6 separate regions of the Homo sapiens genome follow, and regions 1, 2, 3, 4 and 5 are each reported to be linked to region 6. Evidence: microRNA targets listed by miRTarBase, many of them from high-throughput screens and not tested one by one. Region 6 holds a microRNA gene; each other region holds the end of a gene's coding sequence.
Evidence for each region. The annotated mature microRNA hsa-miR-770-5p reads UCCAGUACCACGUGUCAGGGCCA and lies in region 6 at 2,710-2,732, shown strand. An mRNA with a match to its seed (bases 2 to 7 or 8) in the 3' UTR can be bound and repressed. Matches are read on the target gene's strand: a 7mer-m8 pairs with bases 2 to 8, a 7mer-A1 pairs with bases 2 to 7 and ends in A, and an 8mer does both.

Region 1: the mRNA of PPM1D is a reported target of hsa-miR-770-5p. Seed matches in the 3' UTR shown: 7mer-m8 at 1,579-1,585.
Region 2: the mRNA of ARCN1 is a reported target of hsa-miR-770-5p. Seed matches in the 3' UTR shown: 7mer-m8 at 2,032-2,038.
Region 3: the mRNA of ZNF675 is a reported target of hsa-miR-770-5p. Seed matches in the 3' UTR shown: 7mer-A1 at 3,244-3,250.
Region 4: the mRNA of FZD6 is a reported target of hsa-miR-770-5p. Seed matches in the 3' UTR shown: 7mer-A1 at 616-622.
Region 5: the mRNA of DEK is a reported target of hsa-miR-770-5p. Seed matches in the 3' UTR shown: 7mer-A1 at 1,493-1,499.

What each region holds. Positions count from the first base shown.
Region 1 is chr17:60,662,725-60,666,816 of GRCh38, reverse strand. It overlaps PPM1D (protein phosphatase, Mg2+/Mn2+ dependent 1D), which reads right to left. Exons shown (of 6, transcript NM_003620.4): 6 at 537-3,822. The coding sequence ends at 3,265. Among named protein-coding and RNA genes, the nearest start is that of BCAS3, 13 kb to the left of the region's middle.
Region 2 is chr11:118,600,225-118,604,316 of GRCh38, reverse strand. It overlaps ARCN1 (archain 1 coat protein complex I subunit delta), which reads right to left. Exons shown (of 10, transcript NM_001655.5): 10 at 1,284-3,692. The coding sequence ends at 3,603. LOC124902765 (a long non-coding RNA gene) reads left to right here. Exons shown (of 2, transcript XR_007062908.1): 2 at 1-1,418. Among named protein-coding and RNA genes, the nearest start is that of PHLDB1, 5.3 kb to the left of the region's middle.
Region 3 is chr19:23,649,844-23,653,935 of GRCh38, forward strand. It overlaps ZNF675 (zinc finger protein 675), which reads right to left. Exons shown (of 4, transcript NM_138330.3): 4 at 2,958-4,092. The coding sequence ends at 3,383. Among named protein-coding and RNA genes, the nearest start is that of ZNF675, 35 kb to the right of the region's middle.
Region 4 is chr8:103,331,018-103,335,109 of GRCh38, forward strand. It overlaps FZD6 (frizzled class receptor 6), which reads left to right. Exons shown (of 7, transcript NM_003506.4): 7 at 324-1,849. The coding sequence ends at 492. Among named protein-coding and RNA genes, the nearest start is that of SNORD173, 24 kb to the left of the region's middle.
Region 5 is chr6:18,222,136-18,226,227 of GRCh38, reverse strand. It overlaps DEK (DEK proto-oncogene), which reads left to right. Exons shown (of 11, transcript NM_003472.4): 10 at 1-54; 11 at 498-2,368. The coding sequence ends at 509. KDM1B (lysine demethylase 1B) reads right to left here. Exons shown (of 22, transcript NM_001364614.2): 22 at 2,374-4,092. Among named protein-coding and RNA genes, the nearest start is that of DEK, 40 kb to the left of the region's middle.
Region 6 is chr14:100,849,700-100,853,791 of GRCh38, forward strand. MIR770 (microRNA 770) reads left to right here and starts at 2,691; the gene lies at 2,691-2,788. The region is part of intron 9 of MEG3 (maternally expressed 3); the gene reads left to right.

The DNA of each region.
Region 1 (4,092 bases), not on the chromosome of region 6:
TGCCCAGGCTGGTGTGCAGTGGTGTGATCACGGCTCACTGAAGCCTCAACCCCCTGGGCCCAAGTGATCCTCCTACCTCAGACTCCAGAGTAGCTGGGACTACAGGCACATGCCACCACACCTGGCTAGTAACGTTCCTACATTCCACTTTTAGTCATAGAACATTGATTCTAAGTAGTCTATAAGTGTATGTACATTGTAATCCCTAATGCAACCACTAATACTGCCTAAATATTTTGTCTCTAAGATTAAAATTTGCCTAGCACTTTGGGAGGCCGAGGCAGGAGGATCACTTGAGGCCAGGAATTTAAGACCAGCCTGAGCAACACAGTGAGACCTTGTCTCTAAGGAAATTTTTAAAATCCACCAGGTGTGGTGATATGCACCTGTAGTCCCAGCTACTCAGGAAGCTGAGATGGGAGGATCACTTGAACCCAGGAGTTAAAGGTTACAGTGACCTATGATTTTGCCACTGCACTCCACATCAGCCTGGGGACAGTGAGACCCTGTTAAAAAAAAAAAAAATTATTCTCAACTTTGTTAGTGAGATAGTTTATTTAGGGACAAAATACATTAAGATGTTTTACTCCACTAGAGCAATCTTCCAGATGTCTGGAAGATGAAAATAACATTGTTCATTAATGCTATTACCAAAACATAACTATTGCACACCCTACTAAAACAATGTTATACACGCTGTATTTCAGAATATCAATGCTTTTAACTTCCAGGTTGTGACAGCCTCCTTCCAGATGACACTTAAAAATGCCCACCTCCTAGAATTCATGCCTTGTGTAGGAGTCTCCCACGTTGTAGTTGACTTGGTCTGTGTGACCAACAAAATACAGAATTGGTATGACACTTTCAGAGGCTAGGTTACAAAAAACATCATGGCTTCTTCCTTGCCCTCCGGTGTTGCTTGCTCTGGGGACAAATAACTGCCATGTTGTGAGAGGCCCTCTGGAGGGGAACATGTGGCAACAAACTGAGGTCTCCTGCCAACAGCTGTGAGTCTTGCGGGAAGCAGATCTTCTAGCCCCAATGACACCTTCGAAAGATTGTAGCCCTGGTTGGTAGCTTGACCAAAACCACGAGACTATCACCCAGCTAAACCACTCTCAGATTTCTGAGGCTCAGAAACTGGAGATAATATTTGTTGTTTTAAACTGCTAAATTTCGAGATATTGTTTTGTAGCAATGAATACATATTTTAATCCTTGTGGCATAAGACACACCGATCAAGAATTATCTTCTGCAAAATATTGAAAATAACCAGAATGTGTGGACATGGTTAAATAATGGCATAGTTGGCTGGGCACGGTGGCTCACACCTGTAATCCCAGCACTTTGGGAGGCCTAGGCTGGTGGATCATGAGGTCAAGAGATCAAGACCATCTTGGCCAACATGATGAAAACCCATCTCTACTAAAAATACAAAACTTAGCCAGGCATGGTGGCACGCACCTGTAGTTCCAGCTACTCAGGAGGCTGAGACATGAAAATCACTTGAACTGAAATGTAAGAAATACATTGAAAGCATAAAACTCAGGCCGGATGCGGTGGCTCACGCCTGTAATCCCAGTACTTTGGGAGGTCGAGGCGGGTGGATCACGAGGTCAGGAGATCAAGACCAGCATGACTGACATGTGAAACCCCATCTCTACTAAAAATACAAAAATTGGCTGGGCACAGTGGCGCGTGCCTGTAATCTCAGCTACTCAGGAGGCTGAGGCAGGAGAATCGCAGGAACCCAGAAGGCAGAGGTTGCAGGGAGCCGAGATCACACCACTGCACTCCAGCCTGGATGACAGAGCTAGACTCCATCTCAAAAAAAAAAAAAAAAATTAGCCGGGTGTGGTGGCACACACCTGTAATCCCAGCTTCTGGGGAGAGAGATTGAGGCAGGAGAATCACTTGAACCCGGGAGGCAGAGGTTGCAGTCAGCCGAGATCACGCCACTGCACTCTAGCCTGGATGACAGAGTGAGACTCCATCTCAAACAAACAAACAAAATAATAAATAAATAAAATACACTCACTGTAAAGCATGATCATGGCACAACAGAATGTTAATCCAGGTTAAGCATCCCTAATCTGAAAATCCAAAATCCAAAATGCTCCAGAATCAGAAACTTTTTCAGAGCAGGCATGATGCTCAAAGGAAATGCTCATTAGAGCATTTTGAATTTCAGATTGGGAACACTCAAAAGCTCAGTATAAAGCAAATATTCCAAAATTTTAAAAAATCTGAAACACTTCTGGTCCCAAGCATTTTGGATAAGGGATACTCAACTTGTACATACCATTAAAATAAACCAACAACTACAAATTCAGCAACATGAGGAACAGTTCACTGATTTATTAGATGAATATATACCCATATAATCAATGAAAACTGTATGATATAAAATAATTTAAGAAATGTTGGGAATTAGCAGCACCATCTGTTATTGAAATAGCAAGGAAAACTTCACATATTTTAAGCAAACACGAGAAGGGAGTAACTACTTTAAGACCTAATAATGCCATTGGTCTGGGATGAAAAAGAAGGGAATTGTTTTAGATTGTTTTAGGCAAACACACTTCCTTCTATGCTGAAGATTTAGTAAGCATATCTGATGACTAAGGTTTTAGAAAAATGCTACTGATGTAAGAGATACTGCATAGTATTTTAATTGGGACAAGACTAACTGTAGCATGGCTCAACACTTCTATGAAAAATTTAGTTCTGAATTATGAAATCAGAAATAAAAAATAATGTTTAAAAGACACTTGGCTCTAAGAAACATTAAGTGAAACACAGGTCACTATGAAAATACATCACTTTTCCAGTCTGCTTAATAATTTACTTTAAAAAGTTGCACAGTTTTCAAGACAAGTGGCTTATACAAATTTTTTAATAAGTATTTTAAAAAGTTTAAATGTTTTTCTAAAATCTAATAGATTCTTTTGATTTCTTTAAACATTTAGCCCTATTGTCACAATTACTGTGTATCAGAGACTCTGAATACTGTGTATTCAGAGACTGAATTTGTGTGGATACAAATTTACACAAATTTTACAGCAACTTATACCCTAACATCTACAAAATCCACATTTACAATACAAGCAAGTACAAGGCCAGGATAAAACTGCTGAATTCCAAAAAGTCAAACTGTATATTTCTTTTAATTTTCTCCCCTTAAAAAAAGTTCAACATCGGCACCAAATTTAAAAAGCCCTCTTATATCCTAAGTTTGGAAAAACCTCATTTCCCAGATGCATTTCAGCAAACACAAACAGTTTTCCTGTGTTGATGAAGTAAAGGATTTCCAATTTTCTTCTGGCCCCTAAGTCTGCGTCGCATGGTGAGTTTAACAGAGTTCTTTCGCTGTGAGGTTGTGGGGAGACTTGCAGGCTGAGCACCACTACTTCGACTTAAGCCATTTCGTCTATGCTTCTTCATCAGGGGGCCAGAATTGGACTCTTCTAATGTCCTTTTAAAGTTTGTTGGAGGGGTTCTTTCAATTTCTTGGGCTTTCATTTGGCCAGGAGTTGACATCTTCAAATTTTTTTGGTCCATGACAGTGTTTGTTGAATTAGTAGGCACAAGGCCAATTGGAAGGCTATTATTCAAAGAATCATGTATCCTTAAAGTCAGGGCTTTAGCGCAATTTTCTTCAAGTGGTTCTGGATCTTTTGAGGGTATGACTACACCTTGGACATTCTCTCGAGCTATCTCAGCTGAAACCTCTAAAAAATTCTCTGAGAAGGCATTGCTACGAACCAGGGCAGGTATATGGTCCTTAGAATTCACCCTTGGCCATGGATCCTCCTCCAGTGACTGAAAAATAAGAAGGTAAAACAAATAAGAAAAAATTTATCCCAGAACTCAACAAATCTATGCATGTGATATTAGGCTTCTTATGAAGCTAGTAGGATGGCAAAAACGGGGTATGCATTCACTAATTCGTTCACCTTCTATTTACTGAACTATGTGTTAAGGTTTAATGGGAGGAACCTGAGTGAGAAGACAATATAAAGGTAAGAATGACATTGAATTCTGTCTTCAGGGTAATAGATGAAATTATAAAGTAATCTATTCAAGTGGGTG
Region 2 (4,092 bases), not on the chromosome of region 6:
TATATCAACCCTGGAAATCTCAGACCCTAGCCAGTGTGAACAACTTTAAAACTGTTCACAATTTAAAAATTAATTGGAGGGCAAAGTTTCCCATCAGAGATGCATGGGTTGACAAATTTGAAGCTATGGTGAGTAAAGGAATGACAGACCTTAATCATTTCATTCGATTAAGGCTACAGTCTCAGACAGCTAAGCCACACTTGAGCAACATTAGACCAGATACTTTTTTTCACCAAGAAAAAAAAAATCAGAATCTTGGCTTTCAACATTAGAAATTTCTCATCCCAGATACTTAATAAGTGAGAATAATTTGCCTTCCAATTTTTTGACACCCAATAGTTTTTCCAAGTTAAATTTTAAAAAAGCATAAGAAAGTAAGCAGCTCTGGCGGAGCGCGGTGGCTCAGGCCTATAATCCCAGCACTTTGGGAGGCTGAGGCGGGCGGATCACGAGGTCAGGAGTTTGAGACCAGTCTGACCAACATGGTGAAACCGTCTCTACTAAAAATACAAAAATTAGCCGGGGGTGGTGGTGTGGAATGCCTGTAATCCCAGCTACTCAGGAGGCTGAGGCAGGAGAATCACTTGAACCCTGGAGGTGGAGGTTGTGGTGAGCCGAAATCATGTCACTGCACTGCAGCCTGGTGACTGTCTCAAAAAAAAAAAAAAAAAAGGCTGGGCGCGGTGGCTCACGCCTGTAATCCAGCACTTTGGGAGGCAGAGGTGGGCGAATCATCTGAGACCAGGAGTTCAAGACCAGCCTGACCAACATGGTGAAACCGTCTCTACGAAAATACAAAAAAAATTAGCCCGGCATGATGGCGGGTGACTGTAATCCCAGCTACTCTGGAGGCTGAGGCAGGAGAATCGCTTGAAGCTGGGCGACCGTGGTTGCAGCGAGCTGAGATCGCACCACCACACTCCAACCTGGGCAGCTAAGCGAGACTCCATCTCAAAAAAAAAAAGTAAGCAGGTTTATCTGAGGGAATTATCAACAGTTCCCAAAAATTGTTCCCATTATCCCTCATCCCTGGATCACTTCTCATCACGGTCTAATGGGGAAGAGAAGACTCCAAGACTCCAAGATTAAAGATGAAGCCTGACTTTTTTGACTCTCCAACTGCCGTCTGACAAAATTAAGACTCCAATCCCCAAAAAGGCCAGAAGTAGCATCAAATTCAAAAGCTACACTGTCAGGAGTGCATGTATCAAATGTAGAAAAATACGCAAGGAAGCACAATACATATAAGATGGAAAAAGGCAATGAATACTCTCACAGATTACTTTCTCTTAAAAAAAACATGTCATTAATTTTTAATGTTAGGTCCCATTACAGCATCCTGAATCAACAAGCAGACACCAAAGTGAGTCAATAATCCAATAAACATCTCATTTTATAATGCGCTTTATTTGATTAAAGAATTTGCCTTCTTTGTATACACTGGAATGTTATATTCCCTATGTATTTTACAGGGTTACAAAATGTCTCTCATTTTAAATATTACCCCAAAAGTAATCTCAGAAAAAAAAGGTTTTTTGAAATTAAACTTGACTTTTAAAAAATCATACGGACAAACAACTTTCAAACAAAACTGGATTAGTAGGATTTCTTGCCTGCTTAACTAACATGACAGACTTCTTGTCCCAAGCCCTTCTCAGAAAAACCTCATGTGGAAACCAAGCTAGAGATAAGAATTCTTCCCTGATGCAGTTAGGGGAAAGGGAAAGGCTAGAAACTTCTTTGGCAAGCAATTCCACACACAGCCATTTATGTGTGAGTGCTCTGCTTCAAGCACAGTACACTCTTTGCAGGGACGGCCAGATGTTCAGAGTGGGAGTGGTACTTTTCAACCAGCTAAAAGTGCAGAAGTCATCTAGTCGTCTGCCTCTTCCCACTGCCAGTGCCTGCAGCCTTGCAGCAACTTTTAACCACCCCTATGGACTGGAATATTGAGTTAAAAGCCAAGGCTGAGCTGGCTGACGCTGTAGTCTCCATTGAAAAGGAAATGGATGAGATGGAACCGAGAAACCACCAGTACATGATGACACTCAAAAGACTTAGGGGGAAAGAGAAGGAAGGATTTCAGAGATGGGGACAGACTGGTGGAAAATGTTGGGCTGACTGGAAGGAAATGGGGTATACGTGAGTAATATGTACATATCGAAACAATCAGTTGCCTCCTGAAATGCAAAAAATCAAATGGTGAAATGGAGCCTCCTTGATAGTTTAGGGCCAACAGGATTGGCAAAGACTCCCTGAACCCACAGCCTTCAAAATCATAACCCCATTTCTGTTAGAAAGGAGGGGACTGATGACAGAGAGTGCAGTCTGGAAGAGGGAGGTGGTGAAACTGAGGAATGTGAATGGATTACAGACTGTGGCCATTACGTTTTAGCTTAAGTACCCAAAATGTGGAGAAATGAAAATTTGGGTAGCAACAGCAGCAGACATGATTACATGTGGATGTGAAATCCCTAACTGGACAGACATAACCATTCTTTTAGACATCTTGAAGAGGGACTGTGCCATTTGAAAGGTGCTTCTCAGCTATCTTTAATATTGACACAAGTGGGATTCATGGTACTGTTCTAAACTGGAAGGACAGGCCCTGAAAGGAAAACAACTTGGCAAAGAGATGAAGGAATGAATTGATACGGGAAAAGAACAGAAGACATGCGTATCTTTTAACTTCTAGACCCCATACCCCTCAAATAGTTCACCTGAATAGTCCAAAAATCAAGAATGGGTTAGATATACTTGTTCCAGGAGTGCCAAATAAATATAATGCCTGTAAACAGATGATCCCAGTGCCTGACTGAATGTATAGAAAGAAAAACCTAAAGGTAAAGGGTATGAATGATTAAAATTTTCTACAGAGAAAACTTTTTAAAAACAAACTAAGTATGAAATATAACTATATTTAGGGATTATATTTAGGGATTAAAATAAAGGAGCAGCTGGGCATGGTGGCTCATGCCTGTAATCCCAACACTTTGGGAGGCTGAGGTGGGCGGATTGCCTGAGCTCAGGAGTTCGCGACCAGCCTGGGCAACACGGTGAAACCCCGTCTCTACTAAAATACAAAAAATTAGCCAGGCGTGGTGGCGTGCACCTGTAGTCCCAGCTACTCGGAGGCTGAGGCAGGAGACTTGCTTGAACCCAGGAGGCGGAGGTTGCAGTGAGCTGAGATCATGCCATTGCATTCCAGCCTGGGTTACAAAGTGAGACTCCATCTCAAAAAATAATAATAATAATAATAATAATAATAAAATAAAAATAAAGGAGCAACTTAGGTAAAGGTAGAGGAGGTATTTAACTGGGGGCATTCTCTGGAGAGCTTGCTTTCCTGCTGGCCAATACAATCTGCCAAAGAAAATTAGCAGCCTTTCCCTTTATGTTTGTGCCATTTCCTTATCAAAGAATGTCTCTGTGACACTGAAACATGGGGGTGAGTCGAGGGTCCTTGCGCGCAGAGAATCGTGCATTGTATCAGAAAAAAGGGGTCTCCAGTGGCTTGTAAATCTGGGAAAAACTCTTCAGCCATCATTGGCGTCTTCTTTATTAATCTGAAAATTTTCCTTTTCAGCTCCCTCTTCTTGGTATTACAGAATTTCATACTTATCCACTAGGAAAGTGGTCTCTGTGGAAAACCTGACGGGGCTGTTTCCATCTACCTGGGTCACTTTGGTAACCTAGGAAAATAAACAAAGAGTAAGGTAAAGCAGGAGGTTTGAGTCTCCATCATGTTGACTACATTCTCATTACAGAACATATCAATTTCCCTAAAAGCGGTATTAAAAGTAACTGTAAAATACTAGAAAAATGTTCAATTCACAACTGAAAGTCACAGCATCACTCTTCCCCACCAAAATGATTAAGCTGCTTTTCTTCTAGATGGAGAAAAGACAACTGTTGGGACGAGATGTTCCGTAGTATTAAGTAAAAGCTCCAAAATGAGTGGCCACAGCCCAGCCCTGCCCTGTATAACCTATGAAATTCATAGACATTCTATCAGGATGATATATTAACATTCTGACCCAAAAGGCAACGTTCTAGCTCTTCACATTATTCATTTGCTCTGCTCTCAAAGTC
Region 3 (4,092 bases), not on the chromosome of region 6:
TACAGTTCAGATAAGGACTGAGATAAGCCATGGTCTCCTGCAGAACCCTCAGGCTTACTAGGGTTGGGAAAACTCAACCCTGGTAAATTTGTGGTCAGACTGGTTCTCTGCTCTCCAACCGTTTTCAGTTGTTTATCAAGACAATACATGTACTACTGAACATACACCCTTATCAGTGGTTCTGCTTTTGCCCTTTGCCCTGTGATCTTTGTTGGACCCTTATCAGAGGTTCTGCTTTTGCCCTTTGATCTTTGTTGGAGCCTTATTAGTGGTTCTGCGTTTGCCCTTTGCCCTGTTCCCTCAGAAACGTGATCTTTGTTAGACCCTTATCAGTGGTTCTGCTTTTTGCTCTTTGAAGCATGTGATCTTTGTACCTACTCTCTGTTCTTACACCCCCTCCCCTTTTGAAACCCTTAATAAAAACTTGCTGGTCTGAGACTCAGGCGGGCATCATGGTCCTACTGATAGGTGATGTCACCCCTGGCAGCCCAGCTGTAAAATTCCTTTCTCTGTGTTATCTCTATTTCTCAGCCGGCTGACACTTATGGAAAATAGAAAGAACCTACATTGAAATATTGGGGGCGGGTTCCCCCAATACCTGAACTGGCTCAATCAACAAATAAATTTACTTCTGTCAATTATAAAAAGTGAAAGGAATAATAACTTAAATAGGCTTATATAAGGTTCTTCAATTAGAAGAACAAAATAGAATGTTTTAATTCAATAAAACAATACACTAATTGTGGAACTACATCTAAAAATTATTTTGTGTGCCCTACTAAATTTTATAAAAATAGTTTATATCTTTGACCACTTCACATAATGAAAACCTCATAAACTATAAAAGAAAAAAAATTGTAAGAAACAACAAAAAAATGTGGGCTAGGCATGAGTACCAATCAAGTAAAAACAAAATTTGCATAAGATTTTGAACCCATAAGCCATACTATTTTACAGTAATTCAGTAGAAAGAGTATAGATTTGCTTTCCGCATTTTTGAGGTTTATAGTTTTCTAGTAAATTAGTTACCTTACTAAAATGTTTTGTTCCAATATTGCTCTTTTCTTCTGAAAATAGGAACAAATTTATACTCACACAAACATGCTTACTTACTCCATAATTTTCTTACACCTAGGGTTTAACTTAAGAGTAATGTATGTATATATTTAACTTTACTAAGTCAAAACTAACAAGTCTGTATGTGTTTGCAGGCAGAGAAACAACATGTTCAAAAATACATATAACAATTTTTTTAATGCTTATTTAGGACTCAGAATGTGTGGACTTTATTTATACTTCTATATAATTTTTAGCATAACCATAAAAATAGCCCTGTAGTCAATAACAATTGTACATTAAAAAAAACTAAAACTGTAGAATTGGTTTATAATACAAAGGATAAATGCTGGAGATGATGGATACTTAATTTTTCCTGATGTAATTATTACATATTATATGTCTGTATCAAAATGTGCTATATATGGCATAAATATACACATACAATGTATCCACAAAAATTAAAAAGTATAAACTTAGATGAGAAATAAATATTTAACCTATGAGAACATTCTTTAACCTCCTTGCAGTTTAAAGTCACTGGCAAAAGGGATTACTAGAAATGTTTGTCCATTATGTTACCAAATAGTATGTTACCATCTTTTGCCTACACCAGTGAGTAAAGTGAAATAGGTTAAAGTTAATGGCATACTAACTTTATTAAATGTTTTATAAATGTTAAATAAAATTTTAATAAAATATTAAGTTCACACATAACTTAAAATTTTAAGAACGTACATTTTATTACATAAAAGTACAATTAGTAAAATAATTTACTAATTTTAACTAAAATTTAAAATGCTTTTTTCTCACTATAATGCAGAATATTACCCTGAACACCCACCTCATGTGTCACTTATATTAACAAAAAGAGCCTCTCCACTTAGATTTTTATGTGTCTTACATTTTAATGTCCTTACCCTTCCATAAAAAAGATCATAATGCCCAACTAATAAAAAAAAATTCTCCTATCTCTGATGCAACAATTAGTCACAAGTTGAATACAATAGAAATGAAGAAAACAAGAAGAGTTTTGAATTTTGAGAGTTGAATTACATTATTCATGTTGCAAATAATCTGTATTTTTTAAGGAAAAAAGTATACTTTCAATGTAATTATAACTTTTCAAAAAATTTTCTACACCTTTTAAAGTTATACACAATTTATCTAACAACTTTAGTTCTGGATTATTTTTTATACTCAGCATTCTGATTTACTGTAATGTCTGAAGTGTCAGTGCCTTAGATATTTCTGAGCTATCTGATATTTACATAGACTTAATTTTAGAATAAATATTGTTTTATATTTACTGCATCTACAAAAAAAAAAAAAAAAATATATATATATATATATATATATATATATATATAGAGAGAGAGAGAGAGAGAGAGAGAGAGAGAGAGAGAGAGAGAGAGAGAGAGAGAGAGATGGAGTTTCACACTTGTTGCCCAGGCTAGAGTGCAATGGCACGATCTTGACTCACTGCAACCTCTGCCCCTCCAGTTCAAGCGATTCTCCTGCCTCAGCCTCCTGAGTAGCTGGAATTAAAGGCACTCACCACCATGCCTTGCTAATTTTTGTATTTTTAGTAGAGACAGGGTTTCGCTATGTTGACCAGGCTGGTCTCGAACACCTGACCTCAGGTGATCCATCCACCTCGGCCTCCCAATATGCTGGGATTACAGGTGTGAGCCACTGCGCCCAGCCTGCAGAAATATATTTTAGTACTAACTCTCTGGTGTTTTCTAAAGCTATAGATTTTGAAAAAATGTGTTTTTCTAAATGTATTACATTTGCAGAGTTTTTCTCCCATACAGATTCACTGATGTTGAAAAAACTTTGAGCAACTGCTTCAGGGTTTTTCTCTAGTACAAAATGTACATGATAAGCTTTATGATACCAGTAAATGTACTACAACCCTCTTTATGTTTGTAATCTTTGTCTTCAAAACGAATACTCTTCTTCACTTTAAAGGCTTATATTTTCTTAAAGTCTTTAGACAGTAATTGCATTTATAATGCTTTTATTAAGTACCAACATTCTGATATTAAGATGTCAACAGATATTAATGGCTATTTTACACTCTTTATATTTGTACAATTTTTCTTAAGTATAAACGCTTTCCTGTGCAATAAGGTTTGAGCCTTAATTAACAGTATTGCCAAATTCTTCACACTTGTAGTTTTCTCCAGTATGAATTATCTTACATACAATGAAGTGTGAAAACCATTTAAAGTCTTTGACACATTCTTTACATTTCTAGAATTTTTCACCAGTATGATTTCCTTTATATTTAGAAAAATTTGAGGTGTTGTCAAAATCATTATCACACATTCCAGTTCTGTAGTTTCTCTCCAGTATGTATTTTTTTATGTTTAGTAAGGTTTGCAGATTGGTTAAAAGCTTTGTCACATCTCTCACATTTATAGGGTTTCTCTCCAGTATGAATTATCTTATGTTCAGTAAGTTTTGAGGATCGGCTAAAAGCTTTGCCACATTCTTCACATTTGTAGGGTTTCTCCCCAGTATGAATTCTTTTATGTGTAGTAAGGGATGAGGAGTGTTTAAAAGCTTTGCCACATTCTTCACACTTGTAGGGTATCTCTCCAGAATGAATTTTCTTATGTTCAGTAAGTTTTGAGGATTGGATAAAAGCTTTGCCACATTCTTCACATTTGTAGGGTTTCTTTCCAGTATGAAGTTTCTTATGTTCAGTAAGTTTTGAGGATCGGTTAAAAGCTTTGCCACATTCTTCACATTTGTAGGGTTTCTCTCCAGTGTGAATTCTCTTATGTGTAGTAAGGGCTGAGGAGTGTTTAAAAGCTTTGCCACATTCTTTACATTTGTAGGGTTTCTCTTCGGTATGAATTTTCCTATGTTCCGTAAGATTTGAGGATCGGTTAAAAGCTTTGCCGCATTCCTCACATTTGTAGGGTTGCTCTCCAGTATGAATGTTTTTATGTTCAGTAAGTTTTGAGGATCGGTTAAAAGCTTTTCCACATTCTTCACATTTGTAGGGTTTTTCTCCAGTATGAA
Region 4 (4,092 bases), not on the chromosome of region 6:
ATACAAAAAATTAGCCGGGTGTGGTGGCACCCACCTGTAGTCCCAGCTACTCGGGAGGCTGAGGCAGGAGAATCGCTTGAACCCAAGAGGTGGAGGTTGCAGTGAGCTGAGATCACGCTATTATTGCACTCCAGCCTAGCAACAGAGTGAGACTCTGTCTCAAAAAAAAAATTTGTATTTTGAAGTGTTAAAGTACACCTGAAGACTGTTAGCTATTTATTCTCTGATAAAGGTGGACACTGGTTAGGGGTGAAACTCATGAAAAATGGCATCATATTTGTGTTTGTGGATGTGTGTGTGTCAACTTTTTTTCTTTTATCTAGGATTAGTCCAAAGAGTGATATTACTGACACTGGCCTGGCACAGAGCAACAATTTGCAGGTCCCCAGTTCTTCAGAACCAAGCAGCCTCAAAGGTTCCACATCTCTGCTTGTTCACCCGGTTTCAGGAGTGAGAAAAGAGCAGGGAGGTGGTTGTCATTCAGATACTTGAAGAACATTTTCTCTCGTTACTCAGAAGCAAATTTGTGTTACACTGGAAGTGACCTATGCACTGTTTTGTAAGAATCACTGTTACATTCTTCTTTTGCACTTAAAGTTGCATTGCCTACTGTTATACTGGAAAAAATAGAGTTCAAGAATAATATGACTCATTTCACACAAAGGTTAATGACAACAATATACCTGAAAACAGAAAATGTGCAGGTTAATAATATTTTTTTAATAGTGTGGGAGGACAGAGTTAGAGGAATCTTCCTTTTCTATTTATGAAGATTCTACTCTTGGTAAGAGTATTTTAAGATGTACTATGCTATTTTACTTTTTTGATATAAAATCAAGATATTTCTTTGCTGAAGTATTTAAATCTTATCCTTGTATCTTTTTATACATATTTGAAAATAAGCTTATATGTATTTGAACTTTTTTGAAATCCTATTCAAGTATTTTTATCATGCTATTGTGATATTTTAGCACTTTGGTAGCTTTTACACTGAATTTCTAAGAAAATTGTAAAATAGTCTTCTTTTATACTGTAAAAAAAGATATACCAAAAAGTCTTATAATAGGAATTTAACTTTAAAAACCCACTTATTGATACCTTACCATCTAAAATGTGTGATTTTTATAGTCTCGTTTTAGGAATTTCACAGATCTAAATTATGTAACTGAAATAAGGTGCTTACTCAAAGAGTGTCCACTATTGATTGTATTATGCTGCTCACTGATCCTTCTGCATATTTAAAATAAAATGTCCTAAAGGGTTAGTAGACAAAATGTTAGTCTTTTGTATATTAGGCCAAGTGCAATTGACTTCCCTTTTTTAATGTTTCATGACCACCCATTGATTGTATTATAACCACTTACAGTTGCTTATATTTTTTGTTTTAACTTTTGTTTTTTAACATTTAGAATATTACATTTTGTATTATACAGTACCTTTCTCAGACATTTTGTAGAATTCATTTCGGCAGCTCACTAGGATTTTGCTGAACATTAAAAAGTGTGATAGCGATATTAGTGCCAATCAAATGGAAAAAAGGTAGTTTTAATAAACAAGACACAACGTTTTTATACAACATACTTTAAAATATTAAGGAGTTTTCTTAATTTTGTTTCCTATTAAGTATTATTCTTTGGGCAAGATTTTCTGATGCTTTTGATTTTCTCTCAATTTAGCATTTGCTTTTGGTTTTTTTCTCTATTTAGCATTCTGTTAAGGCACAAAAACTATGTACTGTATGGGAAATGTTGTAAATATTACCTTTTCCACATTTTAAACAGACAACTTTGAATACAAAAACTTTGTTTTGTGTGATCTTTTCATTAATAAAATTATCTTTGTATAAGAATTATGGAGTATTCTGTGGTTAGGTATAGTAGTTCTGGCCAAGGAAGTAGTATAATTTTTTAGATTAGTGACTCCATGGCTGGTAAGTCAGAGGCTTCTTTTTAACCTTGAAGGAGAATGCAGTCAAGATTCTTGCTTTTTGTCACTATTTCTTTCCAAAAATGTAAATTATAAAGCTATATTAACTGTAACTTTTTAAAGCCAGTGGGAAAGATCTGGAGTGTGAGGGGTGAAGCAAAAGGAACCCAGGACCCAGTTTTCACTCCTAACAGTGTATTAGGTGATACAGACAAACCTCCCAAAACAGAAGGCTAGAATATGTGGATGAAATAAAACAATAGGCAGATTTCTGTGATGGGGGAAAAAAAGAAATAAAATAATATTAACCCCAAACATTAAAAAACTAATAAGATAGTGAGGAATTGCCAGGTTAAGATCTGGGAGAAGAGAGAAATTCTCACTACAAAGCCCAACATTTGGAGCTGTTTTGCCCAGGAGCACTTGATGACTTGGAAAGGGCAGCTGAGAAGTGGAACAGTGCTATTGACAGCCTCAAAGGGCTGGAAGACAAGGGGTCTGCAACCACCCTACATTTAGAATTGTGACCTCAGAGGGTTGGATCTTAAAAGTACATGTGAGTTGTACATAAAGCAGCCCTGCTTCAAGTTGTCTGGGTAGATAGAAAAAGTTCAAACCCTGAAATTAGATTAAGGTAGCTCAAGCACCAGGTAAATGAAAATCTTCTCTGGAGGAAGAAAATGTTATTTTATATACTCTAAAAGTACCACAGTGCTCATCATACAATCAAACAATCAGGTATGCAAAAAAGACCATTTTTTGTTCATTAAAACATGAACAAGAATTGGCACAAGCAAGAGAAAAAGATCCCCAGGTACTGCTGATGTATTACTAGATACACATCATGTAACTTAAAAGTACAAGCAAGGAAAACAATAAGATACTACACACCTATAAGAATGGACAGCACATAGTGACTTCCTTCCAAAGAATCCAAAGTACAGGTGGTACAGGGAGAGTAGCATTTACAGTGGAGAAACCTGACAAACTCAGCGAGAGGTACCTCACTACTCAGAAGGCGATCAAAGTCAAAAGAGAGGTAAGTCATGTTGAGAGTGTTACCTTTCATATGATGTGATGAAAATTGCAGTTTACCTCTGATATTCCCAAAACCTATAACCTCACTCTAGTTGTGAAATATGAGATGAATCTCAGCAGATGGACATTTTACAAGATAGCTGACCAGTCCTCCTCAAAAGGAGTCAAAATCCTCAAGAACAAGGGAAGTTTGAGAAACTATCACAGCCAAGAGGAGCTGAAGGAGACATGACAACTAAATGTAATGTGGTATCTTGGAAAAGAAAAAAGCACATTAGATAAAAACTAAGGAAATTTGAATAAAGCTTAGTCATCCAAATCAGCTAAATGTTCTTTATAATTTTCTTCCTTCTGCTTGCTTTTTCTCACCTTTTAGTCAGATATTGGACTCCTGGATGGATCCTTTAATTTTCTCATCTTTCCTCTCCTTTTGCCAATCTCTTTGGATTTTTTTCTTTGAAACTTTATCAAATGTATTTTTTAATTTTTGATTGAAGTTTTTTTGGCTATCATTTTTTAATTTCACAGCATTTTAAAAATTTTGTTCTTTTTTCATAGTACCTTTTTGTTTTATGATTATTTTATATATAATGTATTTCAAGATACACAATTTACTTTTTAAAGATCATATAGGAAACATTAATTTGTAATATTTATTTTGTAGCAGATGACTTTATTAAAGTCCCTCAATCCCTCTAATAATTTTGCAGTTGATTTTTCCTGGATTTTCTAGGTGGATGATTTTTTCCTCTCAAATAATGGTAATTTTATTCCTCAGCTATTAGCTGGAACTTGTAGCCAGTTAACATTAATAGTAGTAGCAGTAGACATCCTCGTCTTGTTTCTTTATTTTAAAGAAAATGCCTGTAGTACTTCATCATGAAGAACAATGTTGGCATTTGACATAAGATAGGTATTTCTTAATGAGTTAAAAGAATCCTATTCCATCTTATAAGTTTTTAAAAATGAGGAATATGTACTGAATTTTATCAAATGCCCTTTTGCTACCAGGATTAGTCAGTATGAGGCTAACTTCTGTAACAATCCTCAAAATCGCAGTAGCTTTAGAAACTTATTCATGCGACAGGTGTGAATGTTCTTGAGGTAGCCTTCCAAATTCAAGCAACC
Region 5 (4,092 bases), not on the chromosome of region 6:
CCTACTTATGATTTAACTGAAAGAAAAGATTTCATAAAAACAACTGTAAAAGAGGTAAATATTTCAGTCTTTCAAGTTTGACTTTAGAAATATAAGACAAAAGTAATTACATAAAATACTCCATATTTTTCAAAATATTCATGTCACTAAATATCACATTTGATCCTCACATTTCTTCATAATAGGGAAATTTATTTCTTCTCATTCCCACTTTAAAGCTTAAAATTAAAGTTTGAACAGTTAGTGATAAGACCTGAACTCAGATTATGATGTGGCCTCATGGTGTACCTGGGTAGCTGGGCATCTCAACGTTGCTCTCACAAATACTTGAGGAAGTTCCTGTCTACGAGGCAAAGGTGAGGGGAAGATCAGCAGGTAGCTGTAATTCTGTATTGATCTCAACTGATTTTTGAAGGACAAAATAGTAAAATAGATGTGGAAAAAATGGGATAAAGGTTTATGATTTATGGCAAAATAATGTTTCTCTTTCATTACAGCTAATTTCTTGAGATAGAGGACAGAGAAGATGACTCGTTCCCATAGATTTGAAGATCTGATTTATACCATTATACCAGCAAAGAGAATGTATTTCCTTTTCTAAATCCTTGTTAAGCAACGTTAGTAGAACTTACTGCTGACCTTTTTATCTTGAGTGTTATGTGAATTTGAGTTTGCTGTTTTAAATTGCATTTCTATGCCATTTTTAGTTTAAAATCTTGCATGGCATTAATTGTTCCTTGCTTTTATAGTTGTATTTTGTACATTTTGGATTTCTTTATATAAGGTCATAGATTCTTGAGCTGTTGTGGTTTTTAGTGCACTTAATATTAGCTTGCTTAAGGCATACTTTTAATCAAGTAGAACAAAAACTATTATCACCAGGATTTATACATACAGAGATTGTAGTATTTAGTATATGAAATATTTTGAATACACATCTCTGTCAGTGTGAAAATTCAGCGGCAGTGTGTCCATCATATTAAAAATATACAAGCTACAGTTGTCCAGATCACTGAATTGGAACTTTTCTCCTGCATGTGTATATATGTCAAATTGTCAGCATGACAAAAGTGACAGATGTTATTTTTGTATTTTTAAAAAACAATTGGTTGTATATAAAGTTTTTTTATTTCTTTTGTGCAGATCACTTTTTAAACTCACATAGGTAGGTATCTTTATAGTTGTAGACTATGGAATGTCAGTGTTCAGCCAAACAGTATGATGGAACAGTGAAAGTCAATTCAGTGATGGCAACACTGAAGGAACAGTTACCCTGCTTTGCCTCGAAAGTGTCATCAATTTGTAATTTTAGTATTAACTCTGTAAAAGTGTCTGTAGGTACGTTTTATATTATATAAGGACAGACCAAAAATCAACCTATCAAAGCTTCAAAAACTTTGGGAAAGGGTGGGATTAAGTACAAGCACATTTGGCTTACAGTAAATGAACTGATTTTTATTAACTGCTTTTGCCCATATAAAATGCTGATATTTACTGGAAACCTAGCCAGCTTCACGATTATGACTAAAGTACCAGATTATAATGCCAGAATATAATGTGCAGGCAATCGTGGATGTCTCTGACAAAGTGTGTCTCAAAAATAATATACTTTTACATTAAAGAAATTTAATGTTTCTCTGGAGTTGGGGCTCTTGGCTTTCAGAGTTTGGTTAATCAGTGTTGATTCTAGATGATCAACATAATGGACCACTCCTGAATGAGACTTAATTTTGTCTTTCAAATTTACTGTCTTAAATCAGTTTATTAAATCTGAATTTTAAAACATGCTGTTTATGACACAATGACACATTTGTTGCACCAATTAAGTGTTGAAAAATATCTTTGCATCATAGAACAGAAATATATAAAAATATATGTTGAATGTTAACAGGTATTTTCACAGGTTTGTTTCTTGATAGTTACTCAGACACTAGGGAAAGGTAAATACAAGTGAACAAAATAAGCAACTAAATGAGACCTAATAATTGGCCTTCGATTTTAAATATTTGTTCTTATAAACCTTGTCAATAAAAATAAATCTAAATCACTGGTGTTTTAAGTCACTTGCATTTGATATCTTATAGGTGTATATAGCATTTCCTTATGGGGAATAATTCTGAAAAGGGATTTTTAAATTGATTCAGCCCTATAACCTATACAATTTGGAATACTCTTTTGTGGTAATGGACCATTTTCTTGGAGTGACTTCACAAAACTGAATAATTAAGGTTAATTTTATGACCATTTGCTATAAAGAAGGTAAGTAGTCATGCATAGAGTATTTGGAAGTGAGGAAATGGAGTTGTTCTGTATGAAAGTTCTTGATGAGTACGCACACTTATTAAATGGATGTATCACCACTACAGTACAGAGTACATGTGAAAGTCTAGTTTTTTATTAGTTTTACACAACCAGCTATTCATGAACTGTAGTTAAAACATTGTAAATCTGTATATTTACTGCTACTCAATTACAAAATCTTCAGATGGCATTGAAAAAACATATCCAAAGTAACTCAAGAAAAAAGTACCATGGCTTCTTAAACAAAAAATCAAATGAAGTATGTCACTTGATAGGAAGTTTAAAACACACATTTACCATACTTTAAAGTAGGTTTTCCCCTACTTGTAGCACAGTTCAAGTGCCTGGAAACTAACATAATAATTTACTGTTAACCATTTCAAACTTAACATTTTGCATTTATCACTTTAAAACACATGCTGTCTAAACATTTTAATACATGATACTTTAAAGCAGAATACTTGCCAGTCAGTACCAATGAGTCTCAACAAATAACCTAAATATCAGAGTTGTCTTGGGTTAACTTTTGAGATATACAGCTGTTGGCTTGTTTTGGGACCACACTTTGATTGGGGGGGGCGGGGGGCGGGCGGTGGGGGAGGTGTCTTAAATGCCTGAGGTTCACTGCACATTCTTGGTGTGTTAGGTATTTACTCGTTATAAACTGACCTACTTTTAAATTTTTAAAATACTCAATATTTTGAAGTCTCTTTAAAGTCATATTTAGTCCCTTCTTTAAAGCAAACCAGTATATTATTGTTCAAAAACAAAAGCATATTTCTAACCTGTATACTGAAGTTTCTTGGCAAAATAGGCATCCTGAAGACCCTGCAACCAGTGTTTTATTTTAGAATGAGATATTATTAAACTGTTTTCTGTCATGAGTGTTTTTAAAAAAAAGATAAAAGTAAATACTTGCCATGTTCTTAGGCCTTTAAAATATAGCTTATAAAATGTATACTATTTACCAGGAGAGCTCACATTTTTCTGCAGTTTTCCAGTGGACCTGCCTATGGAATACTGTAAAGAAAAATCTGCAAAAATATTCCTAGCAATTGAATCAGTGCTTTTAAATAAAAGAAGTGGAGAGGGGCTTGGTTAAATTATTCTGACAAGTTTTTTTGCTAGTGGTTGCCAAAATTAAGGATATTTAAAGTGTCCTATCACCCAAATTTGGCTTTAAGAAAAAGCTATATTCTGTGTCTATAGTGTGAAGCCCACACTATCTGTGCTGCATTCTCAATGATACAATACCTATCTGGAAACTTTCCTGTTTTGCCAATGGGTGCACAAATCTAAAACATTTTATCACAAAAGGTACTTGAATTTAAATTTCTTTTGAACACCCAGTAGGAGGAAATATGTACAATACAAAATACCTAGAAGCTTCATTTTACTGTCAACTGGAGTTTGTGCTGTATCCAAAAAAAAGTTCTATCTAAATTTTAAGTAAAAGCTCAATATTGGACCTATATAAAAATTAAGGCTCATTGGTAAAGATACTGATAAATTGTCACAGAAGAAAAACATGGCTTTATCTGGTTTTTAAATGATTCCTGCTTGATTGACTTGGTTTCTCAATGTATGAAAATTGATCAGCCATATAAAATGTGAAATCTAAAGGGAACTTCCAGCCATGGAACAATCAAATCCATGGCCTCAACTGAAACTTACATTCTGCTTTATTCTGAAATCCAGACTTTCAGCAGTAGTTGAACCTATGGAAAATGCAATTAAATCTAAGTGCTTATAAGGTTTTTTGAGGTCAGTGCTTTTAGAGTGATGAAATAG
Region 6 (4,092 bases):
AGACTGTCAGTAATCCTGAAGATGGATGAGATAATCCAGGCCCAGGTTCCCAGGGGGAGGGAAAATGGAGAAAATATAAAAAGATGTGAAAAAGGAAAAAGGAAAGGTAATAAACAAACAACCAAAGTGATAAATGGATAGTTAAGGGAGGTTGTCTGAACAGGGATTATAATTAGTTTACATACATACTCCTTAAACAGATAAATACATTACACCTTTCAAAGAATAAATGAAAAATAGAGAGACATACCTGGCTCCAAAACAAGGCTGTATCTTCTGCCACTGTAATAAAATAGATGCAATTGAGGTTCATAAATAAAAGAATAAATACTTAAACGTGAAAGGTGACTAAATGCGGGGAAGAAAGATTGCAAATAAATACATGGGCCAAAGATGTTTGGTTTGCCCATGGAGTTTTAATTAAAAAAATTAATAAGGAAAACAAATACCCAAAATAAGGAAGACTGACAAATGAGTGAGTGGATGAGAGAGTGAATGGTGCTTGACGTAGGAGCAGTAGTGCTTTAGGGACCAGCATGAAGGTGGTGACCGGGAGCCCTGATTCATGGGATTCTGTCCACCTGACTTTATAAGAACCAAGAATGGCTGGGAATGGTGGCTCACGCCTGTAATCCCAGCACTTTGGGAGGCCGAGGTGGGCGGATCATGAGGTCAGGAGTTTGAGACCAGCCAGTTTGAGATCAGCCTGGCCAACATGGTGAAATTCCATCTCTACTAAAAAAATACAAAAATTATGGGCGTGGTGGCACCTGTCTGTAATCCTAGCTACTCGGGAGGCTGAGAGAGGAGAATTGCTTGAACCCGGGAGGTGGAGGTTGTAGTGAGCCAAGATTGCACCACTGCACTCCAGCCTGGGCTACAGAGCAAGACACTATCTTAGATCAAAAAAGAAAAAAAAAAAAAGAAGGAGAAAGAACCAGAGAAACATAAGGAAGAGTGAGAGGAAGAAAGAAAGATGCAATTTGGGAAGAAATGAAAAAGAAATGAATAAAGAATAAAATAATGTAACGGTCAATAAATAGGACTTGTGAATGGAGGCCTTTAGGCCAAAGGCTATGATTAATTTCAAGCTATGTTACTGAAGTCCATAAACAAAGGACTCAGATCTAAATGGATGAACGAATGACTGGAAGAAAGGGTGGTAGGAAGGTAGGAAGAAAGGAAGGAGGGAAAAAGGGAAGAGAGGAAGGAACCTTCTTTCCAGTCCTGTGTTCTAGACAGTGGAATGAAGTGGTCCCCAGGGAGGGTGGCTGTAGGCATGTCATGTGCTTGTCACATGCACTTGCCCTGGCAGGGAGGAGCTGGCTCAGGAAGACCCTGGTCTTGGGGTGCTGTTGCCCTATCTTGGCTGTGTGGGCCATTTCACTGCATCTGTCTCTTCCTCAGTTTCCCCATCTGTAAACCTGGAGTGGCACCAGCTGCCTACTAGAGTTGATCTTATGTGTCTCTGTTGATGGTACCCCATCTATGGCCTGGATAGGCAGGAAGGGCTTGGACCCTGAGCCCCGCAGAAGGTTGCATGAACGAGTGGTGTGAAGCCTGTTGGGTAGCTTGGCCACTCCCGCGGCATGGGTCACCTGCACAGGAGGTTTTGCCCACCAGGGGGCAGCAGAGGGTCAGGGAGCAATAGGCCCTGGGTGGAGCATGGGCCCCGCCTGCTGTGTGCCACCCTGGGTGTGGCACCTACTCACATCCAGGGGTTGGTGCAGGGAAAGGCCAGAAGGTGGCCAGGCGCACCTGAGAAGGGGGACCCAGAAGCCCCGGGACCCAGGAGCCCTGGGCAAGCCACCAGAAACCTTGTTCTTGCAACTCTCTGCAGTGTGCCCAGGCCACCCTCTGGCCTGGTCTTCCATGGGGCAGGGCGCCCACCCTTCTCAACTCAGGTTTCCCTGGGCAGCAGGTGCACCTCAGCACCCCTGGGGTTGCAGAAGTGGTCCGGGGACCCTGGCTTCCTTGACATGCCATCCCCAGAGCCTGGTTCAAGGCCTCTCTGTCTTCTCGGCTGTTTCACGACGTGTTTTGTAACTTGGCGGGATTGCGTTTCGCTGTGTCGAGGTTGTCTCTTCTCTGACTCGCCCTCCGGGGGACTGCCGGGGTAAATCTGGAGAGTTGCTCGTGCTGACAGTCCTCCCCCAGGGCCTCCCCGGTTCTGTTGAGTCTCCTTTCTCTGTAGTGGAGGAAATGTGTGTAGTTTTGTGTTGTGTGCCTGTGTTTGTCTGTAAAAGCAAGGACCAAAGTCTCCCTTGTTGACCTCTCAATTCCTATTTGGGACATATAAAAACACTGGATTCTTAACAAGCGCCCGGAGCAGTAGGAGCACAGCTTGGATGGACTCAGGACTTGTGGCAGGGAGCACGTGGGAGGCAGGGGAGTGGGGTGGGGCCAGGCCATCTGGAGTGGGAGGCGTCATGCTCAGAGTGACTCTGTAGACGCTGGGTGGGATGGGGAGTGCGGGCGCAGGCATGGATGGGGCTGTTAGCTAGTGTGATGCTTGAGGTCTGAGCTGATGGCAGCAAAGTGGGGTGCTCAGGAATCAAAGCTATGGGGTTATAGACAGGATATGAAGGAGGGAGGGAGGCAAGAAGAAGGGGGTGGTTCCCACGCTTCTAGCTCCGGCCGAGTGGATGGCAACAGCATTTGGAAGGCGGAGGACATGGAATTCATGTGTCAGGAGCCACCTTCCGAGCCTCCAGTACCACGTGTCAGGGCCACATGAGCTGGGCCTCGTGGGCCTGATGTGGTGCTGGGGCCTCAGGGGTCTGCTCTTCTTCTCTTTCAGAATCTGGGGCTCCAGGCTATGCCTTGGCTGGACTGAGGTCTGGGGGTGCACTTATTATCCCTGGGGACACCTGCTGAAGCTTCTCCCTGACAAGCTGTGTCACTGTTGGATGAGGATGGGGCGGGAGGGGTTCAGGGCAGAAGAAGACCGGGAGGGTCTTTCAAAAGAACTCATGTACGGCTGTTAAAAAAAGTCAGCAGAGGCTCAGGAAGACTTAAAGTGTGCAGAAGGCGGGGAAGGGAGGGCCCATTGCATGCACCAAGAGGAAATTGGAAGGAACAAGCGACGTTGGCTGCTAGGAGAGCCTGCTCCCAACATCTAGGGGCTGTCCTGACGGGTCACAGTGGGTCGAACTGAGCCAATGAGAGCAGCTCTGGGGAGACCCACTGGTGCCCTGGAGGCTGGGTGGGTTTGGGTTGGATGAATTCTGTGTGTCCTTTTGGAAATGTGGAGGCCATGAGGGGGGATCAGGGCTCTTAGGGTTTTGACCCTTAAGAGTTTTGTATCTGTAATTCAAAGGTTCTTTAGTTCTGGGATGCTGAGATTCGGGATAGGGTTCCTAATGGCACAAAAGCCAGAGATAAAACATCCTTCACGTGCTCCCTACCCGGTTCTTTCTGTACCAGACCCACAAGGTCCGAGTTGGGATCCTAGTGCTCCTGTCTGGTCAGGGCCTATCTTTATGTGTTCGTTAAACTTTTAACAATGAGAATTAATTCTGTCTCTTGACATTGTCATTTGCATGCTCCCCACACACAAATCCTTTCCTGGTGACACCAGGAGCTACAACTCTCCTTGGCCTCCTCTTGTGACTCCCAACTCCCTCCTTGGGAAGCTTGGCCTCAGGACCTCTGGGATAGACAGGCCACGAATCCTGCTGTGTCCCGTTGTGTTCCTAATATAAATGGTGTGGATGGCACTTGACCTAGAGCAGTGGGAAATGCATGCACCACTCAACATTCTGACATGTCACCCATTTTACATTCTTACAGGCATACTTTTTTTAAAAAAAGAGTGTCTATTCTTTAATGAGCATCCCTTCTTTAAAAAAACCTAATTGCCATTATTCACCACATACACTTTTTTTTTTTTGTATCCTGCCTCTTCTATTTAATTTTCTGTCATCAACATTTTCCCTTGTTCCATGAATCTTCATAACCTCACTTGCTGCGTTGTGCCTTGTTGAGTGGCTATGGCATCATTCACAGAACCATTCTGTTATTCTTATGTATAACCACCTTTTAAAAATATTATGAATAATGCCACAACTAACTGCTTAAAACACCCTTTTT